2 separate regions of the Homo sapiens genome follow, and region 1 is reported to be linked to region 2. Evidence: microRNA targets listed by miRTarBase, many of them from high-throughput screens and not tested one by one. Region 2 holds a microRNA gene; the other region holds the end of a gene's coding sequence.

The links. Region 2 holds the annotated microRNA hsa-miR-6511a-3p (CCUCACCAUCCCUUCUGCCUGC, at 2,895-2,916, opposite strand). A microRNA usually pairs through its seed, bases 2 to 8, with sites in the 3' UTR of a target mRNA and lowers its output. Matches are read on the target gene's strand: a 7mer-m8 pairs with bases 2 to 8, a 7mer-A1 pairs with bases 2 to 7 and ends in A, and an 8mer does both.
Region 1: miRTarBase lists MED18 as a target of hsa-miR-6511a-3p. Seed matches in the 3' UTR shown: 8mer at 2,918-2,925 and 7mer-A1 at 2,528-2,534.

Annotation. Positions count from the first base shown.
Region 1 is chr1:28,334,332-28,338,331 of GRCh38, reverse strand. It overlaps MED18 (mediator complex subunit 18), which reads right to left. Exons shown (of 3, transcript NM_017638.3): 3 at 2,367-3,915. The coding sequence ends at 3,362. Among named protein-coding and RNA genes, the nearest start is that of MED18, 7.3 kb to the right of the region's middle.
Region 2 is chr16:18,341,121-18,345,268 of GRCh38, forward strand. MIR6511A4 (microRNA 6511a-4) reads right to left here and starts at 2,959; the gene lies at 2,893-2,959. It also overlaps the pseudogene PKD1P4-NPIPA8 and the pseudogene PKD1P4. RefSeq lists an enhancer at 888-1,679.

The DNA.
Region 1 (4,000 bases), not on the chromosome of region 2:
CTAAAAATACAAAAATTAGCTGGGCATGGTGGTGGCCGCCTGTAATCCCAGCTACTCGGGAGGCTGAGGCAGGAGAATCGCTTGAACCCGGGAGGCAGAGGTTGCAGTGAGCTGCGATTGCATCATTGCACTCCAGCCTGGCAACAAGAGCAAAACTCCCTCTCAAAAAAAAAAAAAAAAAATCAAAATTAGCTGGGCGTGGTAGCACATGCCTGTAATCCTAGCTATCCAGGAGGCTGAGGTAGGGGCATCGCTTGAACCCGGGAGAAGGAGGTTGCAGTGAGCCGAGATGGCACCACTGCACTCCACCCTGGGTGACAGAGCAAGACTCTGTCTCAAAAAATAAATGAATTAATAAATAATAAAAATAAAGTACCTGTCATGGAGCAAACACTATTTAAACACTAATACTTTTATTAGTATGAAAGCATATGCAAGTTGGAAGTTATGAGTTAGATTTACATAGAGTAACAAGTACATATCAGGCCAGGCACAGTGGCTCATGTCTGTAATCCCAGCATTTTGGGAGGCTGAGGCAGGCAGATCACTTGAGTTCAGAAGTTCGAGACCAGCCTGGCCAACATGGTGAAACCCCCTCTCTACTAAAAATACAAAAATTAGCTGGAAATCACCTGAACCCAGGAGGCGGAGGTTGCAGTGAGCTGAGATCATGCCATTGCACTCCAGCCTGGGCGACAGAGCAAGACTCTGTCTCAAAAAAATAAATAAATAAAAGCTCTATTGTTACACAGCTTATAAAAGCAAAAAAAATGGGATCAAACTGAAAATCATAGAGGATTCAATTAGATAACTTATAGCAAATCCATATGATGAAATAGAAATAGCAATTATAATTGTCAATATTTAAATACCAGCTCTGCCAATCAGTAGCTGTATAGCTCAGGGAAAGTTAATTAATCTATATGTACCAGTTCTCCTGTTTACAAAACGGGTTTAACATACCTGAAGCACTTAGGATAGCACTGACACATAACAGGAACTCAATAAACTAGCTTTAAAAAGAAAAAAATTTTGGCCGGGTGCGGTGGCTCATGCCTGTAATCCCAGTACTTTGGTGAGGCTGAGGTAGGGAGTTCGAGACTAGCCTGACCAACATGGTGAAACACCGTTTCCTTCTTCTTTTTTTTTTTTTTTGAGACGGAGTCTTGCTCTGTCGCCCAGGCTGTACTGCAGTGACGCGATCTCAGCTCGCTGTAAGCTCCGCCTCCCGGGTTCAAGCAATTCTCCTGCCTCAGCCTCCCGAGTAGCTGGGACTATAGGCGGCCGCCACCACGCCCGGCTAATTTTTGTATTTTTAGTGGAGACGGGGTTTCACCGTGTTAGCCAGGATGGTCTTGATCTCCTGACCTCATGATCTGCCCACCTCGGCCTCCCAAAATGCTGGGATTACAGGCGTGAGCAACGCGCCCTGCCCGAAACACCGTTTCTTAAAAACACAATGCCACTGCACTCCAGCGTGGACAACAGTGAGACCCTTTCTCGAAAATAAAAAATATAATACAAAAAATTAAGGCCGGGCGCGGTGGCTGACGCCTGTAATCCCAGCACTTTGGGAGGCCGAGCGGGGCGGATCACGAGGTCAGGAGATTGAGACCATCCTGGCTAACACTGTGAAACCCCGTCTCTACTAAAAATACAAAAAATTAGCCGGGCGTGGTGGCGGGCGCCTGTGGTCCCAGCTACTCGGGAGGCTGAGGCAGAAGAATGGCGTGAACCCGGGTGGCGGAGCTTGCAGTGAGCCGTGAGTGCGCCACTGTACTCCATCTCAAAAAAAAAAAAAATTAGCCGGGCATGGTGGCCCATGCCTGTAATCCCAGCTACTTGGGAAGCTGAGGCAGGAGAATCACTTGGACCTGGGAGGTGGAGGTTGCAGTGAGCTGAGATCATCGCAGTACTGCACTCCAGCCTGGGCAACAAGAGCGAAACTCTGTCTCAAAAAAAAAAAAAAATTTTTTTTAACAAAAGGGGAGTGTAGACAAATGTCCTGGAAAGATGTTAATGATAGATGAATGGGAAAAAAGGGTTATAAACCAGTATATATGGAATCTTTTTATAAAATAAACACATTTCATATACATAAATTTATAAAAAAATAAAGACTAGATGGATATATACCAAAATAGAACTAGTACTTCTCTTTGGATAATAGGTGTTATTTTCTATCTGTACTATATTTTAAAAGTTTTCAACAATAAATATGCTACTTTTATGAAAGGTGAAAACTCTCATCCTCATCTCTGCCACAATTAAAACTAGGAACTGTCATTTTTTTTGCTTCAACTGGTAATGAATCTACCCCAAATTTACAGGGTAAGGGAATAAAGAATCAGAATTACACAGACATGTCTCTTCATTGGCTTTATTACCATGTAACACAAGCTCACAGCCTCTAATGTTACCAACCTTATACACAAATGGCCAAACAAGAAATTGTCCTTTCCAAAAGATAATTTATTCTGGTTTCCCCTCTTCATTTTTATTTTTTTTTGAGACGGAGTTTCGCTCTTCTCACCCAGGCTGGAGTGCAATGGCGTCATCTCTGGTCACTGCAACCTTCACCTCCTGGGTTCAAGCGATTCTCCAGCCTCAGCCTCCCAAGTAGCTGGGATTACAAGCGCCTGCTACCATGCCCGGCTAAATTTTGTATTTTTCGTAGAGATGGGGTTTCACCATTTGGCCAGGCTGGTCTCAAACTCCTGACCTTGGGTGATCCACCTACCTCAGCCTCCCAAAGTGCTGGGATTAGAGGTGTGAGCCACTGCGCTTGGCCCGGTTTCCCCTCTTAATACAGTGGGATTAGATAGATTCTCCGTGACATCCTGAGCCTTTAATATAGAAAGGCTGTCATGAAAGTGAAATCGCCACATGAGGAGAACAGTGCAAAGAACCAATTAATTCTCACCATCCTCTCCCTGAAGGAAGAATGCCTGCCTGGCAATGGTGAAATGGGACATTTAAAACATATTTTTTTGGCCAGGCGTGGTGGCTCATGCCTGTAATCCCAGCACTTTGGGAGGCCAAGGTGGGTGGATCACGAGGTCAGGAGTTCGAGAATAGCCTGACCAACATGGTGAATCCCCATTTCTACTAAAAATACAAAAATTAGCTGAGCATGGTGGCATGTGCCTGTAATCCCAGCTACTCAGGAGGCTGAGGTGGGAGAATTGCTTGAACCCAGGAGGCAGAGGTTGCAGTGAGCCGAGATCGTGCCACTGCACTCCAGCCTGGGAAACAAAGCGAGACTCTGTCTCAAAAACAAAACAAAACAAAAACCAAAAAAAGCAAACATATTTTTTCAAACAAGTAAGGATAGGCCCCAAATGTGGACAGATCCTCTTAGTCACATGAGCCTCTTGGGGTCTATTTTCTCTAGGTGAACCAGAGGTTTTAGCTGTTCTGCGAAGTTCTTCATGTCATCAGAGACCATGTCCTGCCCAGCGGGTGCTACCACACTTAATTCCACGAGATAGGAGAGTGACAAGGCCTCAGTGCTGTCTGTGTTCCCTGGCACCAGGATGCGGAAAATCTTGTACACCATAATCTTCATGATGCCCTTACGGAACAAATGTCCCTTAGCAACAAACTCATGGTCCATGCGGAAGCCCATTTCCATCAAGAAGTCGGTGAGGTTCTCAGATGTGGCAATGTCCACGCAGTTTCGCACCAGGGCATGGCGGTTCTTGTCTCCCATTTCTGGCTGTCCCAGGTAGCGCAGATGCCAGGGTGCCCCTGCCCTGTCCATAGAGCGTCGGGCCCTGAGAACAAATGGGCTGGCTTGCTGGCCCTTAAGGAGGAATACCATCTCATGGTCAAGGAAAGTCTCAGGTTCCATGTTGTCACACAAACCACGAAGGCGGTGGATGAGGCTTTCCAAACTGTGATCTAAAACACTTCCTGAAAACGGAAAAAGCACCACTGAGTCCTGTCTTTCATTTTAGGTCATGGAGTTAGTATACAATTGAAAAAACTTAAATGAAAA
Region 2 (4,148 bases):
GAAAAGAGAAAGGGGAGAAGAAGAGGAGCAGGGTGAAAGGGAGGGGAAGGGGATAAGGGGGATAAGGGAGGGGAAGGGGGATAAGGGAGGGGAAGGAGGATAAGGGGGATAAGAAAGATGAGGGGAATGGACAAAAGGACGGGGAGGATCGGGGGGGAAATGGAGAAAAGGGGAGAGAGATGGAGAAAAGGGATGGTAATAGGGAAGGGGGAGGGGGAGGAGAATGGGAATTGGGGGAGGGGGATAAGGATGGGAATTGGGGGAGGGGGATGAGGATGGGAATTGGGGGAGCGGGATGAGGATGGGAATTGGGGGAGCGGGATGAGGATGGGAATTGGGGGAGGGGGATGAGGATGGGAATTGGGGGGAGGGGAGGGGGACGAAGATGGGATGGGGCAAAGGCGAGGCGGTTGTGGGGAGGAGGGAGGCAGAGGAAAGGGCGGCATGGGGCGGACGGGCCACGTGGGGCGGGCGGGTGGCGTGGGGCACGGGCCGCGGCACCTGTGATGTTGAGGATGCTGTCTCCGATGGCGGTGGGCGTCACGGTGCCCGCGGTGGTCTCTGCCTGCAGGATGCGCATCATGGCCTCCAGCTTGTGCAGCGTCTGCTTCAGGCACGAGCGGCATACGAGCTCCCTGCTGGGCCCCTGTGTGGAGCCAGCAGTGTCCAGCCCCGCTCCTGGCCCCACTCCTTGCACACGCCCTCCTCTCTACACGGGTCCTCACCTGGCTCCCACCCCCAGCCCTGCAGCTGGAGAGCCCACTTGACTGGACCCCCACAGCCTCCTCACTAAGCATTTTTTGTGGCTCTGCATGACCCAGGGCCTCCACCTGGGGAACACGTGATGCAGCCCACCGACCACACAAGGCACCTCTTCACATGAGAGAAGGAGGAGGGCAGAAGGGAGAGAGGAGAGGGAAGTGGAGAAAAGGGGGGAGAGGAGAGGGAAGGAGAGAGAAGGGGGAGAGGAGAGGGGAGGGGAGAGAAGGGGGGAGAGGAGGGAGGGGGAGGAGGGGAGGAAGGAGGAGGGGAGGGGTGAGGGGATGGAGGGGCTGGGGGAGGAGTGGAGGGGCTCAGCGGGATGAGGTGAGGGGAAGGTCTAGGGGAGGGGAGGAGGGGAAGGGCTAGGGGAGGGGAGGGGCTGGGGGAGGAGGCAGGGGCTAGGGGAGGGGGGAGGGACTAGGGGAGGGAAGGGGGAGGGGAGGGGTTAGGGGAGGGAAGGGGAGGGGAGGGGCTAGGGGAGGGAAGGGGGAGGGGAGGGGAGAGTGGAGGGCACAGAGCAGCATCTTCTTAGTCCCTCCCCACATCTGGGCCCCTCTTTACACCCTGGGTCCCCCGAGAGGCACCCTGCGTTCACACAGGACAGCAGAATGGCTGAGGCTACTGAAGCAGGTCAGAGACCGAGGAACGCCATGGCAGGAAGGAGCCCAGGCTGGAGGCTCAGCTCCTCGGCCAAGCTGCCCGTCTGCCCTGGGGGGCTGAACCCAGTACCCTGGCAGGCATGCGGGGCGGGGAGAGCATGTGGGGCCATCCTACCATGCACTGGGCCAGCGCAGCAGCGATCTGCTGGATGTCATCCACAGTGTGGACCCTCAGGGACACCAGAGTCTCCGTGATGTTCTTGCGTATCTGGGCTCGGCGCTGCCGCTCGTGCTTGGGCTCTGCCGCCACGTCCAGGGCCCGCTCGTACTGGGGCAGGCAGGGGGCACAGCAAGCTGTCAGCAGGGCAGGAGGCCGGCAGGAGGCCAGCAGATGCCCACGACTCCCGGGGTGCAGTTACGTGCTAGATGCTGTGTGATGTGGGCACTGACCCGCAACACTGAGCTGTTTCTTCATGGGCAAAACAGGGTAAGCACATGGGCCCTCCTGGGCGGGGGCTGCATTGTGGAAAGCAGACGCCGGAGAGGGCCCGGTGGGTGTGGCTGCTGGGAGCGGAACGTCGGGGTGCTGCTTCAGGGTCACTGGGATTTATCTCTGGGGCCCGGGATGAGCCCTCCGCAAAGCTCCAGGCAGGGGAACAGGTCTTGGTCCCCAGCACGCATGCAGCAGATGTGAGGTCCCCTCCCAGGCTGCACTCACCTCGTTCAGCACAGTGACCAGGGCCAGCGAGTACTCGATGACGTGCTGGGGATCGGCCTGCCGCAGCAGCCCCGGGAGCACACTAGCGGTGAGCCCGTGCAGCCAGACTGTGAGCCCCATTGCGCTGCCGTTGGGCTCTGGGAGGGTGATGGCCAGAGACCTACGAGCAGAGGGGGGTGGTGAGTAGGTGGCAGTCTCGGGGGCGCCCTCCCACGGCCTGGCTCACCTGTTGAGGGCGACCACAGCGGCTCCCAGCTGGTCCTGCACCACCACGGCCAGGCCCACCTCGAAGTGTGGCCTGAAACCCGGGGGCAGCACGGCTCCGTAGCCGGAGAGGCTGCCCTTGTAGACACAGAACTCCTCGCAGTGGCCCTGGCGACAGCGCTGCAGCAGCAGGGCGTACACCAGCGGGGCGCCAGCATCCTCCGCGTCATGCCAGCCTGAGGGACGGTCCCCACGGCATCACGGGAGGGCTCCGTGACCTCACAGAGTCGGGGGATCCCGCTGCTCCCCCTACGCAGGCCTGCACTCACCCATGCATTCGAAGTGCACCTTGGTGGTGAGAGCGTGCACAGCGCCCAGTGGGAAGAGGCGGCAAGAGCCCCCCAGCGGCGGGCGGTTGGGGGACAGGGGGATGGAGGCGCAGCCCTCCTCCTTGCCAGAGCGGCCCAGCACCGTCAGCGTGAAGGTGTATCCCTCGCCGTCCCGCAGCACGCCCCGCCGCAGCACCAGTCACATGCCTGCGCTGCCCGTGGATGTGGTGGTCTCATCCAGCACCAGCGTCTTGTTGCTGAACGTACGTGCAGCCCACCGCTGCAGGCAGAAGGGATGGTGAGGGGGCGCAACCCTCTGCCCTGTCAGCCCCACTTCTGCCTGCAGGCCCCGTCCCCTCGGCCATGGGACCCATCCCCAACCCGCCCACACCCCGCTCAACACTCACCCCTCGCTTGGAGCCGCTGCTGCAATTGAGGCAGCGGCCCTCCAGGTACACGTAGGAGCTGCGGCTCACTTCGTACACGGCCTGTGCCTTGCAGGACACACACTCCAAGGACACAATGGGCACCCGGCCACTGCGGATCAGCACCTGGCGTGGGAGTGGGGTTACCTCCAACACAGGTCTATTTGGCCTGCTGGAAGGTCTGGGGGACCCGTGGAGGATGCTGCTCCCAAACTCCAGGTTTCCCAGGGGCCTGGCCACTGCCGGTGAGCTCACCCCCTCCCAGGATACTCATCCGGTTTGCCACCTTCCAACCTGGGCGGCGGAAGGGCATACACAGGGCAGAGGACACTGGGGTGTGCGTTCTGGTGTACTGGAGCCAGCTGGACCCTGGCAGGAGGCAGGCAATGCTCACTGAGGGCCCCTGGGGGGATGCGTGTGGGAACAGACGTATGTGTGGGTGTGAGGACCGCAGTTGCCACGTAGGCCTGACTCACAGACTCCTGCAGCCCTTAGCCAGGGCCTGGGTCAGGAGGCTGAGCCGGGATGGAACCTGCTCCCACACCCTCCCCTCAGACGACCCCTCTGGGCAGACCCCCAATCAGGCCAGCTGAGGAAAGCAGGGACTGGGGAACAGACACCCACTCTGGGGTACCAGCAGGCCCCAGTCAGGGAGGCGCACACGCTCACAGAGGGCAGGGAGGCGCACACGCTCACAGGCACCTGCTGCGTCCGGTTCTCGAAGGCATTAGATGCCAGCAAGGTCAGGACGTACTCACCTGTGGGGACAGGCCCAAGTGGGGCAGCCGCGGCACCCCCACCTGCTCCCCACCCGCTCGGCAGAAGCCCCCCGCCTGAGGAGCCCGGGGTGAACGGCTGCACCTGCGGCCCAGCCTTAAGGGTCCCAGGCTCCCAAGCCACGTGCGGGACGGAGCACAGGTGCAGCAGCACTGAGGGCTGCCTGGTGAGGACGGCACCGCCTCCAAGTGCAGCTGCACTCGGGGCAGCAGAGCAGCAAGAGCCAGGCCGCGGTGGGGGGCAGTTCAGGGGGCCCAGCTTCCCTGTCCACTCCTCCCACGCCTGGCCCCTCCCTCACCCCAGTAGGGGCCTAAGCCATCAGCCCAGGTGAGGT